4 separate regions of the Homo sapiens genome follow, and all the other regions are linked to region 2. Evidence: fine-mapped expression QTL. A gene starts in region 2. Each other region holds a variant in brackets. All regions are shown on one strand. Distances are from middle to middle.

Region 1 (8,100 bases), 580 kb before region 2:
ATCCGTGTTGGCTGTCATTCCTATTAACCAGTTATAACAAGGATCACACACCTTGTTCCCCACACCAGTCATGTGGTGGCTGCACTGTGAGGCAGACACCAACCTTGCATTTTCCACGTACAGAAGTGGCTGAACACAGCCCAGGAGCTTGCCCAAAGCTGCAGGAGGCTGCTCTGGCTCGGGCTCAGGACCGGGGGTGCTTAGAGTGAGGCTCTGGCTGTCCTGCCCGCCTGTGGGTCCTAAAGTCCTCTCATTGCCATTCCAGGTGCCCCCGTGGATAAGCTGCACCCACCTATCCCCAGGAGCACAGCCAGCACCTCTCAGGTGCGCCCCTGAGGTGTCTGTGGCACCTGTCTCTTATCCATCATCATTCTCCCAGGCAGACCCAGGGCGGGGCAGATGCTGGCTCTGGCACCGCAGGAAGCACATCTGGTCCAAGGCATCTCAGAACCTGAGGCTCCGGGGTGTAGAATGGACTTTGAGTTTCTGGAAGAGACCTTAGGAAACGTTGTGTCTGCATTTCCAGGTGGCCGGTTGGTGGTGGGGGCGCCTCACTCCTCACCCTGTGCAGCATCCTCAGCCTCTGCCTGCATCTCTTGAGTCTGCTCTGGGTCAGCACTGGGGGTGAGGAGGTGATGAGGGGCAGCGGCAGGGGCCGGGGGTCAAGAGCCCCAGAGGGGAGGCCAGGCCAGGTCCCGGCAGCCCAGGTGAGATGAGGGCCTCGTGGTGGCCTTGAGGGCTGGAGGTGAGGGAAGGGCCCTGAGCCGGGTGCCACGGCCGACGCCCTGTCCTTTGCCGTGACAGTCTCTGTGCAGTGCAGGCAGCCCCCACCGAATCCAGGTACAGTGCTCAGTGACAAGCGTAGGGAGAGTGGTCAAATCGGAGCAGGGGCAGGGGACGTGAGTCAGGCTGAAAAGAAGAAGCTCAGAGCAGGAAGGGCAGAGGGGCCGGGAAGGGCAGGTCTGAAGCTCGGAGTGGGAAGGGCAGACGGGCTGGGAAGAGCAGGTCTGAAGCTCGGAGTGGGAGGGGCAGAGGCGGTGAAGGGTGAGTCCGGAGCAGCCTCTAGTTGCCCAGGTGCTCGGAGAGTGAGGAACCCCCCAGGGAGGGAGGAGCCCCCAACCCACAGGGCTGCAGCCTTGGACACGGCCAAGACCCGGGCCTAGGAAGAATGGGGTCCTCAGGGCTCAGGTGGGTTACTCATCCGCCCGCTCTGTGCCCAGGGCCCTCCCCCACCACCGTCAGCGAGTCCGCACACAGGTGCCTGGGGTTGTCACCTGAGGGCCGCGCCTGCCTCCTCTCCTGATCCCACAGCAGCCCAGGAAGCAGGGCCCCGTGTGAGCTCCCGGAGCTGCGGCATCAAAACACTACAAATGACGGTGGGGGCGGGGACGGGGCGGGGGTGGAGGCAGGAGCTGGGGGCCAAAGCCGTGGAACTCACTCCCTCTCAGCCTGGAGACCAAAATCCAGGTGTCTCAGGGCCATGCTGCCTCGGGGGTCTCCCGGGGATCCTTCCTGCCTCTTCCAGCTCCTGGTGGCTCCAGGTGTCCTTGGCTTGTGGCCATGCCACTCCAGTCCCACCTCATCCTCACATGGCCTCTGCTCTGTGTCTCTCCCTGTGTGTGTGTGTATCTCTGTGTCTCTCGCTTTATAAAGACAATGGTCATTGGATTTAGGGCCCACCCTACTCCAGCACGACCTCATCTTGACTAATTACATCTGCAAAGAGCCCATTTCCAACCAAGCGACACTCACACAGGTCGGGGGTAGGACTCGGACACAACTCAATCCATAGCAAGTGTGGGTTTTGAAATAGAATCTTAAAGAAGTCCCTCATAAGCCCCAGAGAGCAGCTGGAGGTGCCCCATGAACCCCACAGAGTGGCCAGAGGTGTCTCATAACCCCATAGAGCAGCCGGAGCTGCCCCATAACCCCATAGAGCAGCAGGAGGTGCCCCGTAACCCCATAGAGCAGCGGGAGGCGCCCCGTAACCCCATAGAGCAGCCGTAGGTGCCCCGTAACCTCATAGAGCAGCTGGAGATGCCCCATAAGCCACATAGAGCTGCTAGGGTGCCCCAGGCCTTGTCTCTGTTTTTCTGGGCATCCTGGGAACTGGGCAGAGTGGGATCGTGACACCCGTGGACCAGGAGAGATTCTGGGAAGCCCCTGCCGTTCTGTTTCCCACTTCTTTCAGGCCACTTGGCCAGCACCGCTAGGCCCTCCTCGTCCCTCTTCGTGGAAAACCATGCAGAGGGAGGCAGGTAGAGAAGAGAAAAGATGTCTGACTTCAAGCTTCTAAAGGATTTTCTCCGACAGGAGGAAGAGATACTTTTCAAAATGGTTGTGAGCCGCCTTGGCCAGAACGCAGGAGGACCCTGTTAAGAGGAAATCAGGCACAAGGCGCCCACACAGCCAGGGTGGGAGGGCATTCCAGGATGGTCACAGCTGTCTCCGCTGTGGTCTCAAATGACTTTGCTTGGCCTTCTGGAATCTAAAGGGTCCTGGAGTGGGGTGTTCACTGGATTTGCTGCCGAGAAGTCTGCAGCTTTTCACTGTCACTCTTGAGACCTGGATCCTTCAGACGTGGAAAAGGGAGTGATTGCTCTGAAAGTTCCAGTTTGGGTGCTGGCGACCGGCCTCCAGGCATCTAGGAAGTCGGAGAGCACAGTGCTGGGGACCTTCCATAGAAACCCAAGTGTGCGCCAGCTGCAGGATTTATAATGTAAAAATCAGTGCTCGCGTTAAGGGGCAGCGCCGAGGGAGCAGAGCCTGCGTCCATCGCCATTGTGTTCCAGGCCTCCTTCTGTGAGGTGCCCCTACCAGCAGCTTGCATTCCCTGTACCCCGATATTTCACTGCAGATGTTACTGGAAGCCCTCTGCCACAGGAATCCTCAGGAGCTGATTATTTTAGGAAAGTAAATGGAGAATGAGGAAAATAATATCCGAACACATGACCTCAATTCGCAACGGAGATGTTTCCCGGCAGAACATCGGCTTCGTAGAACCACCTGATTATGTCCCGGCTTCCTCGAAGGGTTTTTTAGGAGCCTCCTGAGGCA[C/T]AGCAGGGCTTCGAGGAGGCTCCTAAAGGGTACAGGAGCACTTTGCAGGGCCGTACCCAGAAACCCCGTTCTAGGCAGAGTTCCCCATTTGGGCTGTGTTTTGAGAAGGCATTTTTAAGGATTCTAATCCTGTATTCAAACATCATTAAGAGCCTAACATCAACCTCATAGTTTTTTCCTGAACATTCAGCTTAAGGGGCTGAGCTCCAGCGTGGCAATCCTGAAAGTGGAATGAACAGTCTTGGGGTGATGCTAGAATTCTCTATAAAAACGCACACAAGCAAAGAGAGGGCCTGGGGCTCGTCCGGCAGTAACAGCAGCACAGTACAAGGCACGGATGCGGAACCGGCTCCCAAACCCCGTGCCTCACTGTCCCTGGTGTAGTGACAAGGTGTCAGAGATGCGCGATCATTTCAGACGTTTTCTATGGGGAGGAAGCTGGGTTTTCTGAGCAGTCATGGGGGGTGAGTGATGTGTGTGAGGACTCGCACAGGCCAGAAAAAATGATGGCTTTAACACAGATCTGGAAAGAAATTCTGAAAACCAAAGAAAGTCGGCAATGAGGCCAGCCTGGGAAATGTTCCGAGAGGGTGTGGAGAACTGGGGAGCAGTGGAGGGTTTCGGGGCGGGGGGGGGGCCCAGCCCATGACAGGCCTGAAGAAGGACCCTGAGCCCCCACCCCGGGTGGCACAGGGGTGCCCAGGCCTGCAGCCCCCAGGGAGAGACGCCGTTCCTGGTGAGGGAGGGGGGAGCTGTGCTGACCCCCCGTGTTTTCCATGATCTCTCACTCCATGCTGGGCAGAGGCTTTAGGAAAAGCTGAGCTGTGCCCGGAGACGGCACCCAGGAGTCCAGCCGGGATAGGACTTGTTTTTCTTCAACAGCAGCGCCAGAGGCAGAAGGGCCAGGAATTCACTTGCGTGGTCCCGGCCCCTCTCCTGGGGCCCATCCTGGGTCTTGGCCTGGGCTCAGGGCCCACTGGCTGGACAGACTGGAGACCCGAACTGAGTGCAGGAGGCTGTGGGTCTGGGCGCCTCCCTTGGGACTTCCATTCGTTGCATGGATTTATTTTCACCGCAGATACCTCAGGTGTACTTCCTAAGAGCAAGCAGAGGCCCTTTCATAACCGCAGCTCAATTTCGGAAATGGGAAAACCTCCATGATCGCAATCCTGTTACCAGATCCACGGACCTTGTTCAAAGGCTGCCGATTACCACAATCGTGTTCTTTATGACAAAAAACAAACAAACAAACAAAACCCTACACTTGTTTCTGGTCCAGCCCAGCAGCCAGAGTGGTGCTGGTTTGTCACGACTCGACTCTGGTTCCCTGGAACCCTGCGTCTTTCTTTCTTTTTAAACCTCGATGGCTTTGGAGGGAACAGACCAGTTTGTATGTTGCCCCTCTGCCTGGGTCTGGCGGGCGCTTCCTGGTGAGAGATCCCACTTGGTATCTCTGTGGGAACGGAAGGGAGGTGAGGCCGCGGGAACGGAAGGGAGGAGAGGCCGCGGGAACGGCGGGGAGGCGAGGCCGCGGGAACGGCGGGGAGGCGAGGCCGCGGGAACGGCGGGGAGGTGAGGCCGCGGGAACGGCGGGGAGGTGAGGCTGCGCCTCCTCGTTCCCTGGCTGAGAGGGTAACTCTGACCACCTGGGTGCAGTGGAGCCGCCAGCTGTCCCCCCTGTAAAGGGACTGGCGGCTCTGGGTGCCTGTGGCTGCTCCAACAACGAACCACAAACCGGGAGCTTAAAACTTATTCTCTCCATTCTGAGGCCAGAAATTCAAAATCAGCCTCCCCTAGACATAACCAAGGTGTCGACGGGGCCGCCCTGCACCTGGGAGAGTCTCCCCGGCCCTTCCAGCTTCTGGGGCTGCTGGCTTCCTCGGCTTGTGGCCGCATCGCTCCCGTCTCCACCTTAATGGTTACAGTACCTCCTCTCCTGTCTGAAATCTCCCTCTGGCCCTCTTATAAGGATGCACCTGATAGCAGCTGGGGCGCCCTGGATAAGCCACATCACCTCCACATCTCGATCCCATCTGCAAAGTCCCCTTTCCATATGAAGACGCGGTGACAGGCTCGAGGGTGTCGGGGGTGGATGTGTCTTTGGCGGCCATGATTTAGCCTGCCAGACTTAATAAGTATTTTGTGAGCTGCCTTGGGAATATATAAATGTCCTGTACTTTGTTAAATTTCATGATGACTGAAGAGATTTCCTTTCTCCCCATTTATCTGTGTATTCATTTATATTAGTGTGGACTCGTGGCTTTTTAAAGATTTAATGGGTTATAATCCATTGCCATCATTATGTGTTTGATGCCCACATTGTCCCGGGTTTGGTCAGTGGGAGCCCCTTCAAGCCAATTCCTGTGTCCCCATCATCCTTTAAGTACCTATTTCCTTTGCAGCAGGAAGAGATATCCCAAGCTCATCTGCGCTTTCCCTGTCACGTGCTGCAATTTGGCGCTTTCCCTGTCACGTGCCACAATCTGGAACTTTTCCCATGAAGCCTTCTGTTCATGGCAAAAGGTATCCAGAAACCAAGACGTGGGTGCTAGTGTGCTCATTACTACTGGAGTGCCTCGGTGTCCAGGGTGTTTCAGTGGCTTCAGTGAGGGAGTGTAAGGGGAGGAAAGGAGGGAGGGAGGGAGAGAAAGGGAGGGAGGAGAGGTGGGAGGGAGGGAGAGAGAGAGAGGGAAGAAGGAAGGAGGGAAGGAAGGAGGGAAGGAGAGAGGGAGGGAGAGAAAGGGAGGCAGGGAGGGAGGGAGGAGAAGTGGGAGGGAGAGAGAAGAAGGAAGAAGAGATGGAGGGAGGGAGGGAAGAAGGGAGGAGGGAAGGAAGCACGTACAGATAAGACAAGACAGGACAAGAAAAGACACACACATATATCTGCATCTATAATCTCTCCATAGTAAATGCACACACACACACACACACACACACACACACACACACACTCTCTAACATACATGAGCCACGAGCTCCCACGATGCCTCCAGTTCCAACCTGGAATACCTGCGACTCCTTCCCCAGCAGGGCCAGGTCTGCCCTCTACCATTCTCAGGGTATTTGCTTATTTGCTCAGTCCTAGAATAAACAGAAAATAGTTTCAGCATTGCTAACCCACCCCACTGTGGAAAACACATCTGTTCACCCCACATATTCTTTGCCTGAAATACAGCGAGCTTCTTTTGTTTCTATCTGCAATCCATTTAGAGTCACCTGCCCCCTCTTTTTTTCCTTTCAAGTATGTAAACTTAACCTGGTTCCACAAAACAAAACCCTACACACACACATCTATTCGGAGAAATGTCGCTTCCTAGTCCATCTCCCCAACACTGTCCCTCACCTCCTGTGACATACACCGTCTCATCAGTCTCTGGGTTGTTCTTCCGGTGTTTCTTTTCTTTTCTTTTTTTTTTTTGAGATGGAGTCTTGCTCTGTTGCCCAGGCTGGAGTGCAGTGGCGCGACCTTGACTCACTGCAAGCTCAGCCTCCCGGGTTCATGCCATTCTCCTGTCTCAGCCTCCCGAGTAGCTGGGACTACAGGTACCCGCCACCACACCCAGCTAATTTTTGTGTATTTTTAGTAGAGACGGGGTTTCACTGTGTTAGCCAGGATGGTCTCCATCTCCTGACCTCGTGATCCTCCCACCTCGGCCTCCCAAAGTGCTGGGATTACAGGTGTGAGCCACCGCACCAGGCCCCTGTCTTTCTTTTTACAAAAAATAAGCATTGTTTTATTTCCCCTTTCTTTTACCCAGAAGATGGCATGTTAGAGATAGTCTTTTACGTTTTTTTTCACTTAATAACATATCGTGGAAATGACTCCATATGAGTTCATAGAGGACTTCCTTATTCTTTTTTACAGCTGCATAGTACTCCACTGTTTGGGCGTACCACAGTTCATTCAACCTCTCTCCTGTCTGTGGGCATTCCAATTGTTTCTAATATTTTGCAATTACATGCAATGTTGCAATGAATAAACCTGTGCATCTGTTTTTTTTAATGCATCTTCATACTATTGTAAGAGTATCTTCAGAGTAAATTCTAGTCATGAGATTACTGATGCAAAAGTAAACTCTTCCTCCAAGATGGTTTTACCAATTTGTATTCCCACCAGCAAAGTAAGGAAAGGCCCACTTCTCCAGAGCCTTCTCATGGGAACATGTTCTCAGTGACGCTGCTACATTGTTGCAATCTGAGAGGTGAAAAATGAGACTGCAATGTAGCTCTGATTGACATTTCTGTTTTGAGTGATATTGAGCCATTTGTTCATGTGTTTAAGGCCCATTTATAAACATTTTTGGTAAATTATCTCTTCATGTCTTTTGTTCATTTTCCTATTGGGTCTTTGGTCATTTCTTCCCTCAGTTTTTAATAATGCTTTCTGTATTAGAACTATTTCCCCTATATTTGATGTATGTTATAAATATTTCTCCTAATTTGTCATTTGTCCTTTGGATTTCTTTGCGGTGTTTTTTAACCATGGAAAAGTTGTTCTGTTTTTATATCGTCAAATGCATCCATCTTCTCTAGTGTTGCATTTGGATGTTGAAAAGTGGTTCTGTTTTTATACCATCAAATGTACCCATCTTCTCTTGTGTTGCATTTGGATGCTGAAGTTTAAAAAGCTTTTCTGACATTTCCTTCTAGTATTTGTATGGTTTAATTTTTTACATATAGATCTCTAATCCATTTGGAGTTTATTTTTTATGTATAGTATGAGATATGAATCTAATTCCATCTTTTACTAAACGGCTAACCAGTTGTCCCAGCACCGTTTGTTAAAAAGATCATCTTTGTCCTAGAGACGTGAACGTCACTTTGACCATCTACAAATTATTCAGAGGTCCTCAGGTCTATTTCTGGGTGTTCTTTTCCACCGTTCTGTTTTGTTGTGTGTCGGTCCCACACTTTTTTCTCTCAAGAAGCTTTTTAGTGTGTTTTAATGCCTGGTAAAGCTGGACCTCCTCCTCCACCCCCCCACCAGCCCCCACTGTGCTAACGTGTTTATTTTTCATATAGGTTTTCATATCAACTTAGCAT
Region 2 (8,100 bases):
ACGCACCCCAGGTACAAACGAAGAGGAAACAGTTGGGGGAGGTGAAGGGCCTCGGCTCAGTTACCCAAGATCGGCTCCCCTAGAGGCCTTTGCTTGCTGCCTCAGCTCCCACACAACTTACAGCTGCAGGAGAGAGTATTCACCCAGTAGCACCATCTTTATGACTTAGATTACTACCTTGTCTTCCTTTTTTTTTTTTTTTTTTTTTTGAGATGGAGTCTTGCCCTTGTCCCCCAGGCTGGAGTGCAATGGCACGATCTCAACTCACTGCAACCTCCGCCTCCTGGGTTCAAGCAATTCTCCTGCCTCAGCCTCCCAAGTAGCTGGGATTACAGACGCATGCCACCACTCTGGGCCAATTTTTGTATTTTTAGTAGAGACAGGCTTTCACCATGTTGGCCAGGCTGGTCTTGAATTCCTGACCTTGTGATCCGCCCACCTCAGCCTCCCAAAGTGCTAGGATTGCAGGCATGAGCCAATGCGCCTGGCCCCTTGTCTTCCTTTAAGAGACAATTATAATACAAAAAATTAGCCGGGCATAGTGGCGGGCACCTGTAGTCCCAGCTACTCAGGAGGCTGAGGCAGGAGAATCGCTTGAGCCTGGGAGGTGGAGGTTGCAGTGACCTGAGATCACACCACTGCACTCCAGCCTGGGCGAGAGAGTGAGACTCCGTCTCAAAAAACACAATTACAGATAATTCTTTTTTTAAAAAAACAACTAGTCATTGATTCTGGAAAATTACAGATAATTCTATCATGTTTCCCATTCCCAGAAGTCCAAGTCCTGGCCTTTCAATATTATCTAGATCTGCATCCCTCTACTACCATGTACATTCTTTAATCACACCGCTGGCCCCATTTCCCACCCCACATGCCTTCCTAGAATTTACCCTCAGAGTCATGCCTTTCCTTTTTTCTTTTTTTTGAGGGGTGGAGAGACAGAGTCTTGCTGTGTTGCCCAGACTGGTTGGTCTCGAACTCTTGAGCTCAAGTGATCCATCCGCCTCGGTTCTCAAAGTGCTGAGATTACAGGCATGAGTCACTGCACCCAGCCTAGAGCCATTCTTGATTTCTCTCTCTTTTACCTGAACATTCACACCAGCAGCAAGTCTTGGTAGCTATAAGATGTACATTTCCAAGTACCTCTGCTAGTCTCCACTTTCAATACCACATCCCCATCCAAGCCACTGTCTTTCTTGCCTGGATAGTTGTAGTAGCTCCTAACTGGGCTCTCTGCTTCCAGCTTCTGCAATTCAGATGAACCTTTTAAAACATAAATCATATCACTTTTTTTTTCTTTGAGACGAAGTCTTTCTCTTGCTCAGGCTGGAGTGCAGTGGCATGATCTTGGCTCACTGCAATCTCCACCTCCTGGGTTGAAGCGATTCTCCTACCTCAGTCTCCTGAGTAGCTGGGATTACAAGGACACGTCACCACGCCTAGCTAATTTTTGTATTTTCTAGTAGAGAGGGGGTTTCGCCATGTTGGCGAGGCTGGTCTTGAACTCCTGACCTAAAGCTTCCCAAAGTGCCTGCCTCAGCTTCCCAAAGTGCTGGAATTACAGGCGTGAGCTGCTGCACTCAGCCATAAATCGTGTCACTTTTCCACTTAAAATTTTCCAAGGGATTCCATCTTGCCAGGGAAGAGCATGTCAAAGGAGAATCCAAGCGCTTTTCCCGCCACCTCCAGTTCTCTGCACTCTTTTTTTTGTTTTTGTTTTTGGCGAGTAGGGGAGACGGAGTGTAGCTGTGTCACCGAGGCTGGAGTGCAGTAGTGCGATCTTGGCTCATTGCAACCTCCACCTCCCGGGTTCAAGCGATTCTTCTGCCTCAGCCTCCCAAGTAGCTGGGATTACAGGCGCCCACCACCACGCCCAGCTAATTTTTTGTGTTGGCCAGGCTGGTCTCAAACTCCTGACCTCGTGAGTTGCCCACCTCAGCCTCCCAAAGTGCTGGCATTACAAGCGTGAACCACCATGCCCGGCCTGCACTCTTCTTTGAACAGAACTCTGTTCTTGTCCTGGGGCCTCTACCCTTGCCATTCCCCTGCCCAGTATGTTCCTCCCTGTTCTTCACATTACCTGTGCCTTCCTGTCAATCAAGATCTTTGCTTCTCACCCTCTCTGAGGTCCAACCCTGAACCTCAGGTCCTCCAAGACAGAGGCCTGGGGACCTGCATGTTTAACCAGCTCCCCAAGTGATGAGTGAGGTCCAGGCAGGTATGGTGTACACCACCTCCATCCCTTCCATGTATCTTACCTTCCTCTTCTCCAGGAAGCTCAGCCCGGAGCCAGAAACGGGAGGCCCGCCTGGACAAGGTGCTGTCGGACATGAAGAGACACAAGAAGCTGGAGGAGCAGATCCTTCGTACCGGGAGGGACCTCTTCAGCCTGGACTCGGAGGACCCCAGCCCCGCCAGCCCCCCACTCCGATCCTCCGGGAGTAGTCTCTTCCCTCGGCAGCGGAAATACTGATTCCCACTGCTCCTGCCTCTAGGGTGCAGTGTCCGTACCTGCTGGAGCCTGGGCCCTCCTTCCCCAGCCCAGACATTGAGAAACTTGGGAAGAAGAGAGAAACCTCAAGCTCCCAAACAGCACGTTGCGGGAAAGAGGAAGAGAGAGTGTGAGTGTGTGTGTGTGTTTTTTCTATTGAACACCTGTAGAGTGTGTGTGTGTGTTTTCTATTGAACACCTATAGAGAGAGTGTGTGTGTTTTCTATTGAACATCTATATAGAGAGAGTGTGTGAGTGTGTGTTTTCTATTGAACACCTATTCAGAGACCTGGACTGAATTTTCTGAGTCTGAAATAAAAGATGCAGAGCTATCATCTCTTAAAAGGAGGGGCTGTAGCTGTAGCTCAACAGTTAGGCCCCACTTGAAGGGAGAGGCAGAATTGTACTCACCCAGATTGGAAAATGAAAGCCAGATGGGTAGAGGTGCCCTCAGTTAGCACCTGTCCCATCTCGGGCCCTCCAACTCCTCCCAGTCCCACTCCAGTGCAGCCAGCTGGCTCCAAGGTAGAAACCCATGAGCACTCAGGGAGCAGTGTGCCTTCAGCTGCAGCAGAAGCAGCCCGGAGGATAAAATGAGAACCAGCTGCACACGGGCCCTTTAACTCCCAAGCCCCACCCCTGGGCTTGGCCTGCCTTGCCCTGCCGGGAAGTGATCCCCAAGGCAGGGTGAGAGTTCCCCATCTGAGGCGTTTGTTGCAGCTACCTGCACTTCTAGATGTGAGTACATTGTACTAGCCCCCCAAACCCCAAATCAGGGGCAGATCTTTGTATCCCTTGAGGCTCTCTTTAGTCCTGTCTTGCTTTGAAGGGCCTTGCTTCTGCTGGGGCAGGGAAAACATGTCTGAATCAGAGTGGGGAAGGAGGATGGGTGGTGGCTTTGCTTTTGGAGGTTTCACTTTCCAATAGTTGGGAGTCTTCTGGGTTTTGAAGTAAAGGCAGATTAACACCAACACCGGTCCCCCACCCCCCTGCAACTCTCAGGCCTCTCTCTGACTTCAGGGTCCCACCTGGGAAATCAGGTGGGGAACCTTACAGGGTCATTCAGACCCCATCTTAGCCCTAGATCGGTGCTTGCTCTACTCACCTGCACTGTCCTGGGGACCTGGGCTCTGGCCTGTCACCTTGAGCTCCAAGAATGTGACCTGTACCCATTCAGGCCCCTTAACTCTGACAGATGAGGGTTTCTTACTCCTCCATGCAGGGCTGGGCCAGCTGTTGGTCTCAGTCGATCATTCAGGAAGTCATTAGCAGAGTGATTTCCAGAAGGCGTAGAATTTAGTGACCAAGGTTCTTTCCTTTTTGGGAGGAGAAAGTGAAAACTAGGATGCTCAGCTGGACCCACCAGCCTGAGATTCTGGGGATTTTAGAGCTGTCCCTTGGGGAGCCAAGCACTTGGGGGTGGAGGTGATAGCGAGGCTGATGGCCCCTGTGTTCTCAGCTCTCTGCCTGGGTAGCCCCTGGGTGATGGGGGAGAGGCCAGCTGTCACGTGGGGTATCAGGTGGCTCTGCCAGAAACTCCCTTGGCACACAGAGCACTGGGTCGGCCCTCGGGTGTGGCTGTTTGGGCAGGACAGCCCTCTGTATGTAGCCTTGAGCAGGTAGGGGGGCCACCTTGAGTGGGTGGCCCAGAGACAGCCTCAGGGCTCCAAGGTAACGGGGTGCTCAGGTTATCTTGGGTGCTGCCCTCCCAGGTTCTGGGGGAGCAGAGGCTGGGCGCTGGCCCAACTTACAGGAAACACTCACCTTTGAACTGCCATTAGCACCATCTGGGCAGTACACAGCCCCACCCAGGTCCTCTAGTTCTTGTTCTCGGCTTAGAATCTTTGTGTTTCTGCCTGAGAAGCCACTGCCTCCTAGTTTGTGGTCTCTACAGTTATAGCCAGGTTGGACTTCCGGCTCCGTCCTTTGATAACTGTGTGCTCTTGGGCAAATTTCTTAACTTGCAGGTTCTTGTGAGGATAACATGAGTTAATTGAGGGCACTTAACACTACCTGGCACAGATTAAGCTCATCTGAAGTGGGAGCTGTTACTTAGGGGCGTTTGCCTAGAACACAGGGTCCAGAGGCTCTCTCCCGGAAACTTAGACCCAGTGAGTCAGAAGTGAGGCCTGCAAAAAGCAGCAGGAGTGGGGTTAAGAATTCCAGCCTAGGGCTGGATGCGGTGGCTCAGGCCTGTAATCCCAGTACTTTGGGAGGCCCGAATGGGAGGATGGCTTGAGGCCAGGAGTTCCAGACCAGCCTGAGCAACATAGCGAGACCCTGTCTCTGTTTGTGTGTGTGTGGTTGGGGTTTTGTTTTTTTTTTTTTTTTAAAGAATTATAGCTCAGTCCTATGATTAGGCAAGTTGAGAAAATATTGATGAAGATCAGGGGTGCTGAAGCCTGGTTCCTGGGGTCGCTTCTGATCTAGGCGGTTCTTGCCTCTGGTGACTGGTGTTAATTGGCAGGAGTGGGAGGAGGGAGGACAAGTGGAAGTCTAGGCTGGCTGAGCTGTTCTGTCTCGAAAAGTTCCTAAAACTGTGCTGCTTTAAAAAAAAAAAAAGTAATTTATGAGACACATTCTCAATTTCCATTAATCATCTCCTAAAGGGGGTAAACCAGGAAGCCGCTGGGTGAAAACAGGCTGTTGGCAATTCCTGAGTCATGTGACCCATTCTCTAAAGACTAGAATATTTAACTTAAATCAGTGAGAAACTCTGTGAAGTTGTGTCCTTGTTTATACCAAACTTCATGTGCCTTTTCCTGAACCTGAAGCTGTGGGAAGGTCTGGGGGCAGGGCCGCATCACCGACCTTACGTCCAACCTCAGGACTGCCTGGAGCAAGAGCCCTGGGGTTGGGGACAAAGGAGGCTGCCTGGACCTGGGTAAGGGAAGGGGCTGGAGGAGAATGAGTGCAATTCCCTGCCCTTCACAGCCTGCAATCGGAGCTGTGTTTTTGTTTTTGAGACAGAGTCTCGCTCTGTCCCCCAGGCCAGAGTACAATGGCGCAATCTCGACTCACTGCAACCTCTGCATCCCTGGTTCAAGCAATTCTCCTGCCTCAGCCTCCCGAGTAGCTGAGACTACAGTTGCCTGCCACCATGTACGGCTAATTTTTGTATTTTTAGTAGAGACGAAGTTTCACCATGTTGGCCAGGCTGGTCTCGAACTCCTGAGCTCAGGCAATCCGCCTGCCTTGGCCTCCCAAAGTGCTGGGATTACAGCCACTGCGCCCGGCCTGAAACTGATCTTTATCCTCCTCCCAGTTCCTACTGTGCACCAGAGACCCTCCAGTCTCTAATACCTTTGACTTGAAGAGCAGTCATTTTTTTTTCCTTTTCTTTTCTTTTCTTTTTTTTTTTTTTTTTTTTGAGATGGCCTCACTCTTGCCCAGGCTAGAGCGCACTCGTGTGCTCCATTTACGGCTCACTGCAGCCTTGACCTCCCAGGCACAGGCGATCCTCCCACCTCAGCCTCCAAAGTAGCAGGGACCACAGGTGTGCACCACCACACCTAGCTAATATTTTTTATGGTTTTTATAGAGACAGGGTCTCCCTATGTTGCCCAGGCTGGTCTTGAACTCCTGGCCTCAAGTGATCCTCCCATCTTGGTCTCCCAAAGTGCTGGGATTACAGGTGGGAGCCACCAAGCCTAGTCAACAGTCACTTTTATTCTCACTTCACTGGAGAGGAAGGCTCAGAGGCTAGTAAGTGGCCCAGGAGCATGCTGGCAGTGATAAAACCTGCTGGAGTGACATTTTCCCACTGGCTCTCAATCCTGGATATATATTAAGAGTCAGAGGCCAGGCGCGGTGGCTCACGCCTGTAATCCCAGCACTTTGGGAGGCCAAGGCAGGCGGATCACGAGGTTAGGAGATCAAGACCATCCTGGCTAACACAGTGAAACCCCATCTCTACTAAAAATACAAAAAAAATTAGCTAGGCGTGGTGGTGGGTGCCTGTAATCCCAGCTGAGGCAGGAGAATGGCATGAACCCGGGAGGCGGAGCTGCAGTGATCCGAGATCGTGCCACTGCACTCCAGCCTGGGTGACAGAGCGAGACTCGTCTCAGAAAAAAAAAAAAAAAATGAGGGAGAACTTTTTACAATAGCAACGGGTGAACCTCACCCAGACCAATTAAATAGAATCACCGGAGATGGGTGGCTTTAAAAAAAGGTCTCCAGAAGGCCTGGCGCGGCAGATCACACCTGTTATCCTAGCCCTTTGGGAGGCCGAGGTGGGTGGATCACTTCCAGCCTGACCAACATGGCGAAACCCTGTCCACTAAAAACAAAATTATCTGGGTGTGGTGGCGGACATCTGTAATCCCAGCTACTTGGGAGGCTGAAGCAGGAGAATTGCTTGAACTCGGGAGGCAGAGGTTGCAGTGAGCCGAGATGGCTACACTCCAGTCTGGGCAACAAGCACGAAACTCCATCTCAAAAAAAAAAAAAAAAAAAAAAAAAAAAAACAGATTTCCAGATGACCAGTGTGCAGCCCGAGCCGAGAGTCTGCTTTAGACCAGAGCTGCTCAGACTGTAATGTGCATGCAAGTCATTGAGGGTCGAGTTAAAATGCCAGTAGATTCAGTGGCTCTGGGGTGGGGCCCCAGGCTGTGTTGCTATCAAGCCTCCAGGTGGTACCACTCTACTCACTGCAGACCCCGTAGGCAGTGTGGTCACTTGGTCAATTGCCATTTAAGACTCACTAGGGGCCAGGTGTGGTGGTTCACGCCTGTAATCCTAGCACTTTGGGAGGCTGAGGCAGGCAGATTGCCTGAGCTCAGGAGTTTGAGACCACCCTGGGGTGAAACCCCATCTCTACTAAAATACAAAAAATTAGCCAGGCTTGGTGGCATGTGCCTGTAATTCCAGCTACTCGGGAGGCTGAGGCACGAGAATTGCTTGAACCTGGGAGGTAGGTGGACGTTGCAGTGAGCCGAGATTGTGCCACTTCACTCCAGCCTGGGCTACAGTCTCCAAAAAAAACAAAAAAGAGATTCAGTATATCAGCTACTCACAGTTGACCCTGAAGATCTCTGGGAAGTAGTGACTCATGACTCGTTTATTTATTAAGTTTTGCTGTAGCAGAAGTTTACTTTTGAGCCAAGAGTCTGATCCGGTCTCCCTCTTTTTTTTTTTTTTCTTTCTTTAAAGAGATGGGGCCTTGCTATGTTGCCCAAGCTGGTCTTGAACTCCTGGCCTCAATCCATCCTCCCACCTTCGGCCTCCCAAAGTGTTGGGATTACAGGTGTGAGCCACCTCTCTCAGGCAAGAGCCCCTCTTTTAACTAGACAATGAACCTGGTTTCTGCTTTGGACAGGCTATTTAGTTCCTGCTTATTTACCCTCATGGTGGGAGAGACCCTGGTGGGATTTGGGGTGAAAGCTGGCTGTGGTTCTTGCAGGAGCCTCATGACACCTGAGGGAGGTGTGATCAGGCAAGACTGGGCCTCTACACTGAGAGCCGACTAGGGCAGGTCTCAGAAGCAGAGACTGAAGGAAGTTGGGTGGATGAGTGGATCTGGGGAGCAGGGGCCAAGCCTGAGGGCTGGGCAGAGCCTTCCAAAGGTCAACACAATCCTTGCTATTGTCTTTTGAGGGCCCTGATCT
Region 3 (8,100 bases), 25 kb before region 2:
CGAGGAATTTACAGTCTGTTTCAATAGAGTGTCACATACGTAGATGTAATACGAAACACAATGAGAGATGTGTATAAACTGAGGGTGTGGAATCTGAAGTAAGCCCTTGAGTATTCTGGGAGGACTTCATTAAGGGAGTGAATGATACTTGAGATGGGTTTCAAAGGTTGGATAGGAGTTTGCCAGGCCTTGACTAAGAAGACAAGAACAGCAAGTGTTTTCTTATTTATGATGTAAGATGCTCTCTTAGCTCAATTTCCTCATCAATAAAAGGGAGAAGAGTGAATGAAATTTAGGAATTGTGAAAGAAGGGAAAATTAATAATTGCTAGCCTGGTCCAAGCTCAAGGTTGCTTTTATCATGAAAGGGCTAGACTCTTGTGCAGTAAATAATTGTTTACATGTGGCCCTCCCCTCTTCCCTCCTACCCTGGACTGTGAGCCCTGGGGCAGGAATGGCCGTGAGCCATTTTCATGATGGAAATGAACAAGCCAGTGATTAGTAGTTTATTCACTAAATCTTAATTTTTTTCAGCAAATACTTCTTGAGGGCCTACTCTGCGCCAGGTGTTGGGGTTAGAAAGGTGAGCAGGATAAAACTTGTTCTCACAGTTGGCAGTCAGGTGGAGAAAGTGACAAACACGCAATAGTGGGGTGTGACAAATGCTTATGGAGGGGCTAACATGAGCTGTGGTTGCACCTGATAAAGCCTTAGTGTCTACCAGGAAAGGGTTTTTGGTTTTGTTTTTTAAGAGGAGTTAAAATGTGTTTACCTTAGTCACTCCAGGGTGGGGTGGGGAGCAATGCAGATATTCTAGGGAGAGAGATTAACGTGGACAAAAATCCAAAGGTGCAAGAGAACTTGGAGTTTTGTAGGAAGTGAAGGAAATTCATCATGACTGGTAACTTACACTGCAAGGAAGGAAACAGAGGGAATGACTAGAGGGCAGGGAGACACCTTGCTACCACCAGCAAGGAAGGCTGTAAAGACCATGACCTTGGGCAGAGGTAGTGCAGTGGGAGTGGAGAGAAGTGGACTTGTTCAAGAGAGATTTAAAGAGATAGACTTGACAGATGTTAATGATGAACTGATGTGGGAGGTAAGAGACGTTGGAGTTAAAGACTCCCACTTTTGGGGTTGGTGCCATTCATTTACATCAGAGATCAAAGGAGGAGGCTGCAGAGAGATGGGGAAGGAGGGTTCAGTTTAGGACAGGTGGAGTTTAAGAGGAGCCGTCGGCTGGGCTCACGCCTGTAATCCCAGCATTTTGGGAGACCAAGGTGGGTGGATCACGAGGTCAAGAGATCGAGACCATCTTGGCCAACATGGTGAAACCCTGTCTCTAAAATTAATCAAAAATTAGCTGGGCGTGGTGGCGTGCACCTGTAGTCCCAGCTATTCGGGAGGCTGAGGCAGGAGAATCGCTTGAACCGGGAGGCGGAGATTGCAGTGAGCCAAGAGCGCCACTGCACTCCAGCCTGGCGACAGTGAGATTCTGTCTCAAAAAAAAGGAGCCGTCAGGGCAGCCGTTCAGAACGTGGGCTGCAGTTGAGAGCTCTTGTGCAGAACGTGCAATAGGACTTATCAGCTGTAAGATGTTACTGAAGCCAAGAGGGCGGGTGACCTGCCTATGAAATGAATCTGAGTGGTCTCAGCTCGGGGCAACTTTGTCCCTCACAGGACATTTGGAGATGTCTGGAGAGATTTTTAGTTGTTACAACTTGAGGGTGAGGGTGGAGAATGCTACTGGCATCTAGTAAGCATATGCTAACAGTCTAAATGCACAGGACAGCCCCACAACGGAATTAGCCAGCCCGAAATGTCAGTAGTGCTGAAGTTGAGAAATGCTGGTCTAGAGAAAGGATAGACGGATCCTAGGATGAGGAGTGAACAGAAAACTAGGTAAGACAACCAGGAAGGTGGGGGGCATGGAAATGAAGGGAAAAGTGTGTTTCCCAAGAGTGTCGCATACTTCTGGGAGGTCCAACAGGATTGAGGCTGAGTATGCCTACTGGATCTAGCACTAGGGAAGTCATGGGTGACCCTGCTGAATAGTGAGGGCAGAAGCAAGTTGCAGGGATGGAGGAGTGGGTAGCAAGAGAAAGGGTGTAATAATAACAGCTAAGGACTGAGCAGTTGCTGCCAGGCACTGTGCTAAACATTGTATGTACATTATTACTTTGAATCCTCACATTCTTATGAGATGCAAAGATGAAGGGGCTAAGGAGGCTGAGGAGGGTTCATATAAAGCACTTTGGAGTTAGATCTTCATTTGAAGCTGTCAGTCACTAGCTGTTGACCCTGGGTCAGTCAGCTAACCCCTCTATACTGAGGTTTCCTCATCTGGAAAATGGGAGACGGACATTAAAAAGCACTTACTGGCCTTTCACCAAATACCAGATAATGTTCTAAGCACTTTTACATGAATCACCTTAATTACTCTCCTAACAACCTAACAAAGAGGTATTTTTATTCCCATTTTGCAGGTAAGGAAATTGAGGCACTGGGATGGAAAATAATTTCCCTAGGTTACTTAGCTAGCTGTAAATGGCAGAGCTGGGATTTCAACCCAGGCCATTTTACCTTGAATGATGAACCTACCTACTATGTGCTAGTCACTGTGCTGCCACTTTATCTGGCACTTATTTCAATTATCTTTTTTTTTTCTGAGACACAGTCTTGCTCTGTCACCCAGGCTGGAGTGCAGTGGCGCAATCTCTGCTCACTGCAACCTCCACTTCCCGCATTCAAGCAATTCTTGTGCCTCAGCCTCCCAAGTAGCTGGGATTACAGGCGTCCACCACCATACCTGACTAATTTTTGTATTTTTAGTAGAGGCAGGGTTTCACCACCACGCTGGTCTCGAACTCCTGACCTCAGGTGATCTGCCCACCTTGGCCTCCCAAAGCGCTGGGATTACAGGCATGAACCACTGCGCCCGGCCAAATTCTCAAAAAGCCCAAGGCCCACCCCCAACCTTATTTTACAGACAAGGAAACCAAGGTCCAAGGTCACAAGCTAATAAATGTCAGAGCTGGAATTGAAGTCCACTTCTGTCTGACCAGAGTCTACACTCTACCTCATTACTGACTTCCCCTTCCCCTTAGATTGATCACTGCGCTTCCTTAAGTGCTTCTACATCTGCCATCTTTCTGTTCTCCCAAAACATCCTGTGAAAGCAGGCAGAGGAAGGTCCTGCACATATTTTTGACAAGTCAGTGCACCTCAGTTTTCTATCTGCACACATGCATCTGCAGGTTTTTACCTGCTTGCTCCTGACTTTCAGGATTGCCATGAGGAACAAATGAGAACTAGATGTCCAAGCGCTTTGCTACCATAACGTGAGAAATGGTATTAGTAGCCCCATTTATCAGATGATGGAATGGAGGTTCAGTTTTTGAAACAGCCCGTCTGCTTATGGGCATGCCTTACTTAGGTGTAAGATTCTTTGTAGGGGTCATCTGTCTGCCTTTTCGTCTTGCTGTTTCTGTGTTGGCTACGTATACCAGCCAGCCTTTTGCCTTCTGCGAGGCCTATGGCTCCTAGCAACCAGCTGCTACCACCAGCAAGGAAGGGAAAGAGCTGCCAGGAGCTTTCCCAGTTGGTACATAATAAGGAAGCAATACAGCATCCTATTAAAAGCAGATTTTTAGAGGGGAAGAGATCTAGGTTTGAATTCCACTATGAGCTACAGTATGTTATCCTCCAACGTAAAATAGAGTAATACTCTCCTTAGATATTTTCAGCTCATTTAACCCCCACAAAAATAGAGGGCTTTTCTTTTTTTAAGTTTTAT[CTTCA/C]TTGTGTTTTCTGATGATAAAAATAATTCAGTTGCCAATTCTAAAACAAAACAAAACAAAAAAAACTTAATCATCTGAAGCAAATTCAGGGTTAAGTTTACATGAGAGAAGAATTGCATGTCGGTGGTTTTTGCAGAACCCACATAATTCCCCATCAAGAGAAGATCATCATTAACAGTTTGCAGGGGTGGGTGGGTCTGTGAGTATACATACGTCTCAATACATATTAGAAACCCCAGTTAAGAAATGGAGGTACAGGCTGGGCAGGGTGGCTCACACCTATAATCCTAGCACTTTGGGAGGCCAAGGCAGGCAGATCACTTGAGGTCAGGAATTTGAGACCAGCCTGGCCAACATGGTGAAACCCTGTTTCTACTGAAGATACAAAAACTAGCCAGGAGTGGTGTTGGGGACCTGTAATCCCAGCTACTCGAGAGGCTGAGGTGGGAGGATCGCTTGAACCTGGGAGGTGGAGGTTGCAGTGAGCTGAGATCATGCCACTGCACTCCAGCCTGGGTGACAGAGCAAGACTGTCTCAAAAAAAAAAAAAAAAACACACACACACACACACACAGAAAATTCTGGCAGTTCGCTCTCTGGTTTAGGTTTCGGTCAGATGTCAACCCTTTTAATCCTTAGAACAACCCTGTGAGGTGCTGGTCTACTTCACCCTTGGCAATTCAAAACATGTCCTGGGCCAGGCATGGTGGCTCCTGCCTATAATTCCAGCACTTTGGGAGGCTGAGGTAGGAGGATCGCTGGAGCCCAGGAGTTGAAGACAAGCCTGGGTAACCTAGTGAGACTCCATCCCTCTCTCTCTCTTTTTTTTTTTTAAGTGCCCAGCATCACCTGGGAGCTTGTTAGAAATGCAAAATCTCGGGCATCACCCCAGGGAGACGGAGACCAAATCCACATTTTCACAAGATCCTCCAGGTTATTTGTGTATACATTACAGTCTGAGAAGCCTGCTATACACCTGCTGCACTTGCTTGTAGAGCAGGGAAGGCACTGAGGCCAAGCTTAGGGGTGTCCACAACATGACCAGGGCAGAATGAGCTTCTCCAACATGAGCTGTGGCCCCCAGCCCGCCCAGCAAAGTTGGTCCCTGCTTCTTCTGCTACCACCATACTTCATGTCTAAAAGTGATCTTCTCTCCTCCAGGAGCTGGTCGCTGTCGGCTAAGCAAGATTGGAGCTACTCGTCGTCCACCTCCAGCTCGCGTAAGGGTGGCTGTGCGACTGCGGCCATTTGTGGATGGAACAGCGGGAGCAAGTGATCCCCCCTGTGTGCGGGGCATGGACAGCTGCTCTCTAGAGATTGCTAACTGGAGGAACCACCAGGAGACTCTCAAATACCAGTAAGGTTCAGGCCACTCCTCTTCCCTCATGCCATCACCTCCCTCTCCTAGGCCTGCCCACGTTCCCCTGCCTCCCCAGGATCCTTGCTCCCTCCTTAGCACCGCTTTGTTCCCTGAGCCTTCACTGTTCACTTAGGAAATGTTGACAGGTGCCCCCATGATGGGCCCTCTCTGGGATACTGTAGGGAGAGATGAGAGGTTGAATCAAACATACATTACTGTGCACAGAGAGGGAGGAGCAATGAGGGTGAGCAGGTGAGCCCCAAGTAGAGGCTGGGGGACATATCAGGAGGGTTGGCGGAACACAGACCTGCCAGCCAGCCTACCCAAGCTGCAGCTGGGTAGTGTCAGAGAAGACCACCCAGATTTGGGGACAGAACTCAGAAGGGCAGCTACTTTATAATCCTACTGGGGATTTAAAGTTCAAACTCCTTGGCCTGTTTTTCTAGGCGGGGGCTGGCAAACCATGGCCTGCAGGTCAAATCTGATCAGGAGTAAGATTTTCAGTAAATAAAATTTTATCGTTTATTTACATATTGTCTATAGCTGCTTTCTGACTACAGTGGCAGAGTTGAGTAGTTGTAAAAGGAACACATGGCCCACAAAGCCTAAAATATGTACAATCTGCCTTTTTACAGAAGTTTGCTAGCTCCCATACTAGGCCGTTAACAATTTGGGCTTCAGTTTCTTTCCAGCCTCATTCCCTCAATATATATTAAACTCCCTGCTGTGGCCTAAGCTGCACTTCTCCACCAGAACGCAGTGGATAGGTGATTGGTATGTAGAGTCTAGTTCAGTCATAAGCAGCATCCTCTATTTTCCCCATTATGGTGTAAAATACAATGTTCTACACATGTAGCCATTTGAAAAAGACTGGGAAGCCTTGCTTTTTTGCTATTCTTGATTCTCAGAATTTCTTTCTTTGGTCAAAATCTTCCTTCCTTGAGCAGAATCAGTTACTCCTTTGAGAGTGTGTTCTTATCTTCGTTTCCTAAATCACAGCAAAGTGTGGATATCTATCCTACCAGACTGAAAAACTCCAAGAGCAGGGATATCAGATCTATCTCTGTATTCCTAACACCAATAGAGAGATGAGGATGGAGTAGGTGTTAGGTGGATGCTTTTTAAGGTCTTTGTACAAGAAAGGGGATAGAGACGTTCTCTTAAATCCAAGGTCCAGATGAGAGTAGAATCCCTTACCCACCCCCACCCCACTCCACCCCTTACACACACACACACACACACACACACACACACACGCTAATTTCTTTCTTTCTTCCTGCAGGTTTGATGCCTTCTATGGGGAGAGGAGTACTCAGCAGGACATCTATGCAGGTTCAGTGCAGCCCATCCTAAGGCACTTGCTGGAAGGGCAGAATGCCAGTGTGCTTGCCTATGGACCCACAGGAGCTGGTGAGGGAGCCAGAAAAGAAACAGCTATGGGTCAGAAAGGGCTGGGGAAACGGAGAGGAAAACCTCACAGTTTTCTCCACTCTCTTCCCAGGGAAGACGCACACAATGCTGGGCAGCCCAGAGCAACCTGGGGTGATCCCGCGGGCTCTCATGGACCTCCTGCAGCTCACAAGGGAGGAGGGTGCCGAGGGCCGGCCATGGGCCCTTTCTGTCACCATGTCTTACCTAGAGATCTACCAGGAGAAGGTGAGGCCCCGTGCTGGTTGGGAGAGGAGCAACAAAGGGTCAAAGTAAGACCTGGTTCTAGAACATGAAGCTCTGCTGTAGCAGGGAGGTAAGGTGAGACCTAGAAAGACAGAGACTGGGGTAGCAGATGGTACAACTCCGAGAATAGAACAGAGAAAGGAAACTGATCCCCAGGAAGAAACAGCCTCTCTATGGAGAATTGCCCTTCCCCTTCACTGCTTACACAGGTATTAGACCTCCTGGACCCTGCTTCGGGAGACCTGGTAATCCGAGAAGACTGCCGGGGGAATATCCTGATTCCGGGTCTCTCCCAGAAGCCCATCAGTAGCTTTGCTGATTTTGAGCGGCACTTCCTGCCAGCCAGTCGAAATCGGACTGTAGGAGCCACCCGGCTCAACCAGCGCTCCTCCCGCAGTCATGCTGTGCTCCTGGTCAAGGTGAGGCCGCAGACAGGGGCGAGGACCTGGGAAGCCCAGGAGCCTGAGCTAAGCACGAGACCTTTGTTCTTACCCCCAGGTGGACCAGCGGGAACGTTTGGCCCCATTTCGCCAGCGAGAGGGAAAACTCTACCTGATTGACTTGGCTGGGTCAGAGGACAACCGGCGCACAGGCAACAAGGGCCTTCGGCTAAAAGAGAGTGGAGCCATCAACACCTCCCTGTTTGTCCTGGGCAAAGTGGTAGATGCGCTGAATCAGGGCCTCCCTCGTGTACCTTATCGGGACAGCAAGCTCACTCGCCTATTGCAGGTCAGGCCCACCTGTCTCAGGGAAGAAGGGGCTGCAGAAGGAGGTTCTCAGGCCTGCTGTGGGGTGGGGAATAGCAGTTGAGGCATAGGAAGGCTGGGCTTCTGACCCACCCACTGCCTGGTCTCACCCTCAGGACTCTCTGGGTGGCTCAGCCCACAGTATCCTTATTGCCAACATTGCCCCTGAGAGACGCTTCTACCTAGACACAGTCTCCGCACTCAACTTTGCTGCCAGGTCCAAGGAGGTGATCAATCGGCCTTTTACCAATGAGAGCCTGCAGCCTCATGGTGAGAACTGGGGGAGGCAGGAGTGGAAACGCTGGGTCTGGAAATTAGGGAGTTTGTTGAAACCACCAAGCATCAGCACAGAGGCTGACCACCCCCAATCCCTCTCTCCACCCCATCCTCCAATCATCTAGCCTTGGGACCTGTTAAGCTGTCTCAGAAAGAATTGCTTGGTCCACCAGAGGCAAAGAGAGCCCGAGGCCCTGAGGAAGAGGAGATCGGGAGCCCTGAGCCCATGGCAGCTCCAGCCTCTG
Region 4 (8,100 bases), 47 kb after region 2:
GGGGGATGGCGTCCACTCCGATGGGGAATGAGGGGGAGAAGAAGAGCAGCTGGCCATCTCAAGCTGCACCCTCCTTGAGAGGAGGTCCGGTGAGCACTGCAGGGAACCCTAGAGGTGGGAATGTAATGAAGTGAAAGCCTCCCAGGCAGAGGCACCCCGTGCCAGGTCTGAGCCACGGGCCCTGAGACTCTAGCCTCAACCCTGAGTCCTGAAGCCCCGACTCATAGCTCTCAGCACTAGGCCCTGACTCTAAACCCCCACCAAACCCCCCTCCCCCAGGTCCAGAGCTTTCTAGCTAAATCTCAAGGCCCAGTCCTTCAGGAGCAAGCTCCTTGGACCCACAGGCCCCAGCCTGGGAACTCCCACAGCCAGCACTCCCATGTGGGAGCTCCCAGGCTGAACCCCTCCGGCTTTTCCTTTCCCAGGCTTCGTTATCTCGTTCTGAGGAATACCTGTCCCAGATCAGTGCAGAACTCATGGAGGAGGCTTTGTGCACTGCTTGCTGCCACTTGAACCCTGTGCCCATCAAAAAAAAGCAGTCACAAGACCAAGCGACTCAGATATCCAAACGCGGTAACCCCCTGCCTCAGGACCACCGTGTCTAGAGAACCGCTGCCCCCACTATGCCTGGTTACAGTCCCTGACCCCTCCCACCCCTAGCTGAACTCTCCAGGAGTCTGTGCCCATCTCATCCATCTCACAGCCAGCCCTAGGACCTGTGAAATGCCCCTCTCACCCGCTAACCCAGTACCCACTCCTCACTGCTGGCCGAGAATCCCCTTAGCCCCGTCTGCCCTGGCCGCATCTCTTCTGGCCACGGGGATAGTCCTTTCTCTGACTAGGTCCTCTACTTCCAGCATTCTTCACCAAGACCTGAGGCACAGACACCTGGTGAGTGAGGCTTCAAGGGAGATGCTCTTTGTCCTGGGAGAGAGGTGAGGAACCTGGAGGGGAGAGAGTGAGGGTTTCACAATATCCCAGCAGGGTGGGGGAATTTTTGAACCGTGCACTTCCATTCTATTCTGCCCTGATCCTCAAATTCTGAATTCTCAGCCCTCTCCCCTCTCTTCCACCATCTCCTGCTCGGACAGAAACCGTACCTGCAGCAAGGCATACCTCCTGCCAACTCCTGGTGAAAAGGTACATGCAGGGTCCATGGCTGCCAAGGCTATTCGATATTAACCAAACCTTTTGAGTTTGCACTATATGTTGGTCCCTGTCTTAGGAGCTTGGGACACTGAAATGAATGGTACAGTCTCAGCCCTTGAAGAGTTCACAGTTCAGTGTGGGGACAGACAAGGAAATGGCCAATTATAATACAGTCTGGATAAGTTTCCATAATAGAAATGGACACAGTGGGATAGTACTCTTATCCCAGCTTCAATTGGACAGGAAGGACAGGAGCCATGGAGCTTCTTCTTTTTTTTTTTGAGACGGAGTCTTGCTCTGTTGCCCAGGCTGGAGTGCAGTGGTGTGATCTCAGCTCACTGCAAGCTCCACCTCCTGGGTTCACGCCATTCTCCTGCCTCAGCCTCCCAAGTAGCTGGGACTACAGGCACCCGCCACCACACCCGACTAATTTTTTTGTATTTTTAGTAGAGACGGGGTTTCACCGTGTTAGCCAGGATGGTCTTGATCTCCTGACCTCATGATCCGCCCTCCTTGGCCTCCCATAGTGTTGGGATTACAGGCTTTGGAGCTTCTTGAAGGAGGTAGCACCTAAAGAAATAATTTTCCACCAGGTGCAGTGGCTCACACCTGTAATCCCAGCATTTTTGGGAGGCTGAGGTGGGCTGATCACTTCAGGGCAGGAGTTTGAGACCAGCCTGGTCAACATGGTGACAGAGGTTGCAGTGAGCTGAGATCATACCACTGCACTCCAGCCTGGGCGACAGTGAGACCATCTCAAAAAAAAAAAGAAATAATTTTCCAGGTTAAAAAAAAAAGAGGTTAGTAGGAGTCTTTCAAGCAGTTGGGGTTGCATGAACAAAGGCAAAGAGCAGTCTTCGCAGAGCCAGTGTGAGCATCTGTGTGTATTTAGGGCAGGGAGAAGCAGTTTAGCAGCTGGAGTCTACAGGCAAGGTAAGAGGGGACTCAAGAGACTTTATGTGCCTTGTTTAGAGCCTTACACACTTTCCTGGCTGGGTGTGGTCGCTTATGCCTGTAATCCCAGCACTTTGGGAAGCTGAAGCAGGAGGATCGCTTGCGTCCAGGAGTTTGAGACCAGCCTGGGCAACATGGTGATACCCCAGGCATGATGGCATGTGCCTGTGATCCCAGTTACTTGGGAGGTGGGAGGATCGCTTGAGCCCAGGAGTTCAAGAATAGCCTGGGCAACATAGAGAGACCCCATCTCTATAAAAAGTTAAAAAAATTAGCCAGGTGTGGTGGCACGAACCTGTGGTCTCAGCTACTTGAGAGGCGGAGGCCAGAGGATCACTTGAGCCTAGGAGGTTGAGGCTGCAGTGAACCATGTTCATGCCACCGCATTCCAGCCTGAGTGACAGTGCAAGACCCTGTCTCAAAAAGAAAAATTTAAAAAAAAGAAAAGAAAGAAAGAAATAGTAGGAGGAGCTGGGTGCGGTGGCTCATACCTGTAATCCCAGCACTTTGGGAGGCCAAGGCGGGTGGATCATGAGGTCAGGAGTTCAAGATCAGCCTGGCCAACATAGTGAAACCTTGTCTTAACTAAAAATACAAACGTTAGGTCAGGCGCGGTGGCTCACACCTGTAATCTCAGCACTTTGGGAGGCCCAGGCGGGCAGATCACCTGAGGTCAGGAGTTTGAGACCAGCCTGGCCAACATGGGGAAACCCTGTCTCTACTAAAAATACAAAAATTAGCTGGGTTGGTGGTATGCACCTCTAATCCCAGCTACTCAGGAGGCTGAGGCAGGAGAATCGCTTGAACCCAGGAGTTGGAGGTTGCAGTGAGCCGAGATCACACCACTGCACTCCAGCCTGGGCTGCAGAGCAAGACTCTTTCTCAAAAAAAAAAAAAAAAAAAAAAGCCAGGCATTGTGTCACGCACCTGTAATCCCAGCTACTTGAGAAGCTGAGGCAGAGACTTGATTGAACCCGGGAGGTGGAGGTTGCAGTGAGCTGAGATTGCACCACTGCACTCCAGCCTGGGCCACAGATCGAGACTCTGTCTCCAAAAAATTAAATAAATAAAAATTAAGCACTTACTATGTGCCAGCACTGCTCGAGGGGCTGGGGTGTTGCAGTGAACGAAACAGAGTTCCTGCTATCAAGAGGTTTAAAAAATTAGCCGGGTATGGTGGTGCACAGCTGTGGTCCCAGCTACTCGGGAGGCTGAGGTGGGAGGATCATTGGAGCCCAGGTTGAGGCTGCAGGAAGATATGATTACACCACTGCACTCTAGCCTGGCTGACAGAGGGAGACCTGTCTCGAGAAAAATAAAAAAGACATGAGCCTTGGGTCTAAAGAGTGAAAAGGCTCTGTCTCTTTTATGGAGCTCTTCCTAACAGTCAGTTTGGAAGATGAGCCCACCCCTCTTTGATGCTCTTGGCTTCTCATGCCTCCCCCTTTTTGTCCCTAGAACATGCCTCAAAACTACTCTTTTGCCACT[C/T]GTTAACCACTTCCGTTTGTGGGGACCTCCTGGTCATGAGCAGCATCATCCCGAAGCCTTCAAAGTGTTCTGGATTCATCACAGGACCCTCCAGCCTCAGCCAGCAAGGATACCACCAGGAATGAAAGTGCTTTAATAAAGAGACAGGGTGTGCATTGCTCATGTGTGGTTTCTCTGGGGTAGAGAAGCAGGACGGGGGGGCTTTTATTTTTTTTTCTAGATGTGGGTGCTGGATGTGGGCATACGATTGGAGTGTTTAGTCTTTAAAAAAATTTTTTTGTGGCCAGGCACGGTGGCTTACGCCTGTAATCCCAGCACAGATCATGAGCTGAGGATATCAAGACCATCCTGGCCAACACGGTGAAACCCTGTCTGTACTAAAAATACAAAAAATTAGCCGGGCATGGTGGCACGTGCCTGTAGTCCGAGCTACTCGGGAGGGAGGCTGTGGCAGGAGAATCACTTGAACCTGGGAGGCGGAGGTTGCAGTGAGCTGAGATCGCACCACTGCACTCCAGCCTGGGCGACAGAACGAGACTCCGTCTCAAAATTTTTTTGTGTGTGTGGAGACGGTGTCTCACTGTGTTGCCCAGACTAGTCTTGAACTCCTGGCCTCAAATGATCCTCCTGCCTCGGCTTCCCAAAGTGCTGGGATTACTGGTGTGAACCACCACACCCGGCCTGTTGACACAGATGAGCTCATGGGTCCAAATCCAGCCTCCTGGCCACACGCCAGCACCTTAAGGTCTAGGTCTGTGGCATCTGGCAGGACTCCTCTTGCTTCTGAGGAGCCACCTCTGCCACCACCATTGGGGATGGGGACACTGAGCTATGGCCTTGCCCCTCTGAGCTTTGGGCTTCATGCCTGTGAGAACATATCACACTCATTACTAGCCAGAAAGCAGTGCAGTAGGCTTTGCAGTAGGCTAAATTCATTTTAGCATTTAGCATTTGCATTGCTAAATGCAAACTGCACAAAGTTTGGCCATTTATTGGAGCCTCCTGTGGAAGTCAATTCTCATCTCTGAGCCTTAGTTTCCTTATCTGAAAAAATGGATTAATAAATGATCCCTGTCCCGTAGGGTCCTTTAGAGAGTTAAAAGACATAATTGAGTCAGGCATGGTGGCTCATGCCTGTAATCCCAGAGACACACCGGACAGTATGGCGGGAGGATCGCTTGAGGACAGGAGTTCAAGACCAGTTTGGGTAACAGAGTGAACCCCCACCCCTAAAAAGGTAAACAAGTTAGCCAGGTGTGGTGGAGCACATCTGTAGTCCCAGCTGCTCAGGAGGCTAAGGCTGGAGGATCACTTGAGCCCAGGAGGTTGAGGCTGCAGTGAACTATGATGGTGCCACTGTACTCCAGCCTACACTACAGAGACACCGTCTCTAAAGAAAAAAACATAGGCCGGGCGTGGTGACTCATGCCTGTAATCCCAGCACTTGGGAGGCTGAGGCGGGTGGATCACTTGAGGTCAGGAGTTCGAGACCAGCCTAGCCAACATAGTGAAACCCCGTCTCTAATAAAATAAAAAAATTAACCGGGTGTGGTGGCAGGCTCCTGTAATCCCAGTTACTGGGGAGGCTGAGGCAGGAGAATCACTTGAACCCAGTAGGCAGAGGTTGCAATGAGCTGAGATTGCACCACTACACTCCAGCCTGGGTGACAGAGTAAGACTCAGTCGCAAAAAAAAAAAAAAAAAAAAAAGACAAAAAAACAACATAATGCATACAAAGTGCTTGCTATTATTGAGATCAGTTTGCCTCACATTCTCCTAAAAGTCCACCCCTTTCTGAATATTTCAGCATCCTTTCAAGTATCCTAAAAATGTTTAATTGCATTTAAATATAAAATTTTATTTTATTTGGGACGGAGTCTGGCTCTGTCGCCCAGGCTGGAGTGCAGTGGCGCAATCTCGGCTCACTGCCAGCTCCGCCTCCTGGGTTCACGCCATTCTCCTGCCTCAGCCTCCCAAGTAGCTGGGATTACAGGCGCCCGCCACTACGCCCAGCTAATTTTTTGTATTTTTAGTAGAGAAGGGATTTCACCATGTTAGCCAGGATGGTCTCGATCTCCTGACCTCGTAATCCGCCCGCCTCGGCCTCCCAAAGTGCTGGGATTACAGGCGTGAGCCACCATGCCCGGCTTAAATATAAAATTTTAATTAGGCCAGGCAAGGTGGCTCACACCTGTAATCCCAGCACTTTGGGAGGCCCAGGCAGGCAGATCACCTGAGGTCAGGAGTTCGAGACCAGCCTGGCCAACATGGCAAAACCCGGTCTCTACTAAAAATACAAAAATTAACCAGGCATGGGTGCCTGTAATCCTAGCTACTCGAAAGGCTGAGGCAGGAGAATGGCTTGAACCCAGGAGGTGGAGGTTGCAGTGAGCCAAGATCACGCCATTGTACTGCAGCCTGAGTGACAAGAGTGAAAAAAAAAAAAAAAAAAGATAAAGTGGAAAAGGACACCCCCAAGGATATAAAACAAGTTCAAATTGGTAGATGGGTCACAGCAGATACGCCTAAAATACTAAAAAGATTGGGGGGGGGGGAAGAAATGGTGTACTTGAATGGATACAAAAATTCTCCAAAGGGGGTGAATTTTAGGCAAACTGGTCATAAGACAAATTGAAAAGCCAGGCTTGGTGGCTCACGCCTGTAATCCCAGAACTTTGGGAAGTTGAGGAAGGAGGATTGCTTGAGGCCAGGTGTTCGAGACCAGCCCGGGCAGCGTAACAAGATCTCATTTCTACAAAAAATTTAAAAATTAGGCAGGCACCATGGCTTGCACCTGTAGTCCCAGCTACTCAGGATGCTGAGGCGGGAGGATCCCTTGAACCTAGGAGTTTGAGGTTGCAGTGAGCTGTGATGGCACCACTGCATTCCAGCCTGGCCGGCAGAGCCAGGCCCTGTCTCTAAAAAGAAAGAAATTGAAAGCTGTTTGCCTCCTGCCCAGCAGCGAGAGAAGACGGGTGGCTCCTGTCAGTTCTCTCCCATCTGGAAGAGGCCCACAATGTCAAGGAAGGCCTGGTGGAGAGGTCACTGCGTCCTGGAGTGAGGCTGGTCGCAGGGAGGCCTTCACAGAGGCTGAGCCTAAAGCCAGGCTTTTTTACCTCAGGCCAGGCCCCCGGACACTGCCCTCTGCCCACTTTCGCATTTCCTTTTTTTTTTTTTTTTTCAAATTGTTCCCCTTTCCCCAGCCCTCTCTCCAGAGAAGTGGTCCAGTGCTCGGTGACCACCTCCCCACACTCCACCGGCCCAATTACAAGTGGCGATTTTCTGTTTATTGCTCAAAAACAAGAATTCAGAAGCAAAGGTGGAGAGACTGTGGGTTGGGGAGATGGCAGGAAGGGGGCAAGGCCTTGTCCCAGCTCTCCCCTTTGTCCTTCTTCTGACCCTCCTGGCCGGAGTCAGGCCTAGGGCCAGGGCATCTGGGAGGGGGGCACCTTCGTGGCCAAGGGAACAGTAGAGCTATCGGGGGCAGTCCTTGAGGGGTGCCCTGGGCAGGAGGGGCTGCAAGATTTGCAGGGAGGCAGAGTTCCCCTCCCAGAATCCAAAAGCCGGTAGGGCGGGGGGCAGGCCCCTCGTTTGGCAACTGAGAAGAGGCGGCTTTGGGCGGCAGGATGCTGGTTTATTTACTGTAGGATCTCCAGGGCCATCAAAGCCCCCTCGTGGGATAGGGAGACTATTTACACAGCCAGGGAGGAGGGCAGCCAGGAGGCAGAGACCGGGTCCCGTATTTCCCTCTGCCCGAATGAGGAGGGGAGGGGCGTCCTGGGTCCTGCAGCTGTAGTCTTGGGGTTCAGATGGAAACTTCATACTCCCGCGTATCCTGAAGACAGAGAGATCAGGTCAGTTGTTGGAGTCTGATAGGGGTGGAAGAGGCAGCCGAATGGGAGGAGGGGCAACGATCCTGGGTTTTAAAGTAACATTGACCTCTAGGGGCTGGGGGGCCAGTGAATGTGTTTGGTTCATCCTACGGTGTCGTAAAATGACACAAAAATCTGAATTTCTGGCTTGTCTTGAATAATTGGAAGATCTGCCAATTGTGCCTCAGTTTCGACTATGGGGTAGAGCCGTATTCTTGAGATGGGGCACAAGTCCTCCACTTAGCCACAGTCCTCACCACTCCCTATTGTATACACATGGCTTGCTATGCTCATTGACATGGCCTCTGGGGGCAGCTGAGTTTGAAATTCCCAAGACAGAGATTCCAGAGACCTTGCGAGAAGGTTATGGAGTCCTGGGAGAGCCAAGTGGTGGCTCTTCAGGGGCAGGCAAGGTGCTTACCCCAGCTTCATACAGCGGGTTGCTGAAGTCCGACTCCACGGTGATGGGGCTGTAGGAGTGGGAGCCCGAGAAGCCGAAAAGGGACTTTCCCTGAAGCCTGGGAAAGGGAGAGGACAGAGGAGCTTATCAACAGGTAAGCCCCTGAGCTCCCCTGACCCAGGCTCCAGTGCCAGGCTCGCAAGACGTCTGCCCTGGCCGGCAGTCCCCAAGCAGGCT

What was found. PIP is the estimated chance that this variant, and not a neighbour inherited with it, causes the effect.
Region 1: its variant is fine-mapped to the expression of MVP in whole blood (TOPMed, PIP above 0.99).
Region 3: its variant is fine-mapped to the expression of MVP in whole blood (TOPMed, PIP above 0.99). The same link has a PIP of 0.9 or more in lung.
Region 4: its variant is fine-mapped to the expression of MVP in whole blood (INTERVAL, PIP above 0.99).

What each region holds. Positions count from the first base shown.
Region 1 is chr16:29,232,647-29,240,746 of GRCh38, forward strand. No RefSeq gene overlaps it. Among named protein-coding and RNA genes, the nearest start is that of NPIPB11, 170 kb to the right of the region's middle. The variant C/T (reference allele first, on the strand shown) is at 3,058.
Region 2 is chr16:29,817,282-29,825,381 of GRCh38, forward strand. It overlaps MVP (major vault protein), which reads left to right and starts at 3,181. Exons shown (of 15, transcript NM_005115.5): 1 at 3,181-3,229. It overlaps PAGR1 (PAXIP1 associated glutamate rich protein 1), which reads left to right. Exons shown (of 3, transcript NM_024516.4): 2 at 1-11; 3 at 2,274-5,208. The coding sequence ends at 2,473. It overlaps MVP-DT (MVP divergent transcript), which reads right to left and starts at 3,086. Exons shown (of 4, transcript NR_186424.1): 1 at 2,903-3,086; 2 at 2,259-2,320. RefSeq lists enhancers at 2,825-2,894, 3,586-4,152, 3,615-3,904, 7,847-7,926, 7,987-8,100.
Region 3 is chr16:29,791,933-29,800,032 of GRCh38, forward strand. It overlaps KIF22 (kinesin family member 22), which reads left to right. Exons shown (of 14, transcript NM_007317.3): 2 at 4,961-5,156; 3 at 6,442-6,569; 4 at 6,661-6,815; 5 at 7,043-7,252; 6 at 7,332-7,562; 7 at 7,696-7,849; 8 at 7,981-8,100. Among named protein-coding and RNA genes, the nearest start is that of KIF22, 5.2 kb to the left of the region's middle. The variant CTTCA/C (reference allele first, on the strand shown) is at 3,796.
Region 4 is chr16:29,864,303-29,872,402 of GRCh38, forward strand. SEZ6L2 (seizure related 6 homolog like 2) reads right to left here. Exons shown (of 18, transcript NM_001243332.2): 17 at 7,885-7,981; 18 at 6,857-7,426. The coding sequence ends at 7,397. It also overlaps the pseudogene CDIPTOSP. Among named protein-coding and RNA genes, the nearest start is that of CDIPT, 5.1 kb to the left of the region's middle. The variant C/T (reference allele first, on the strand shown) is at 3,592.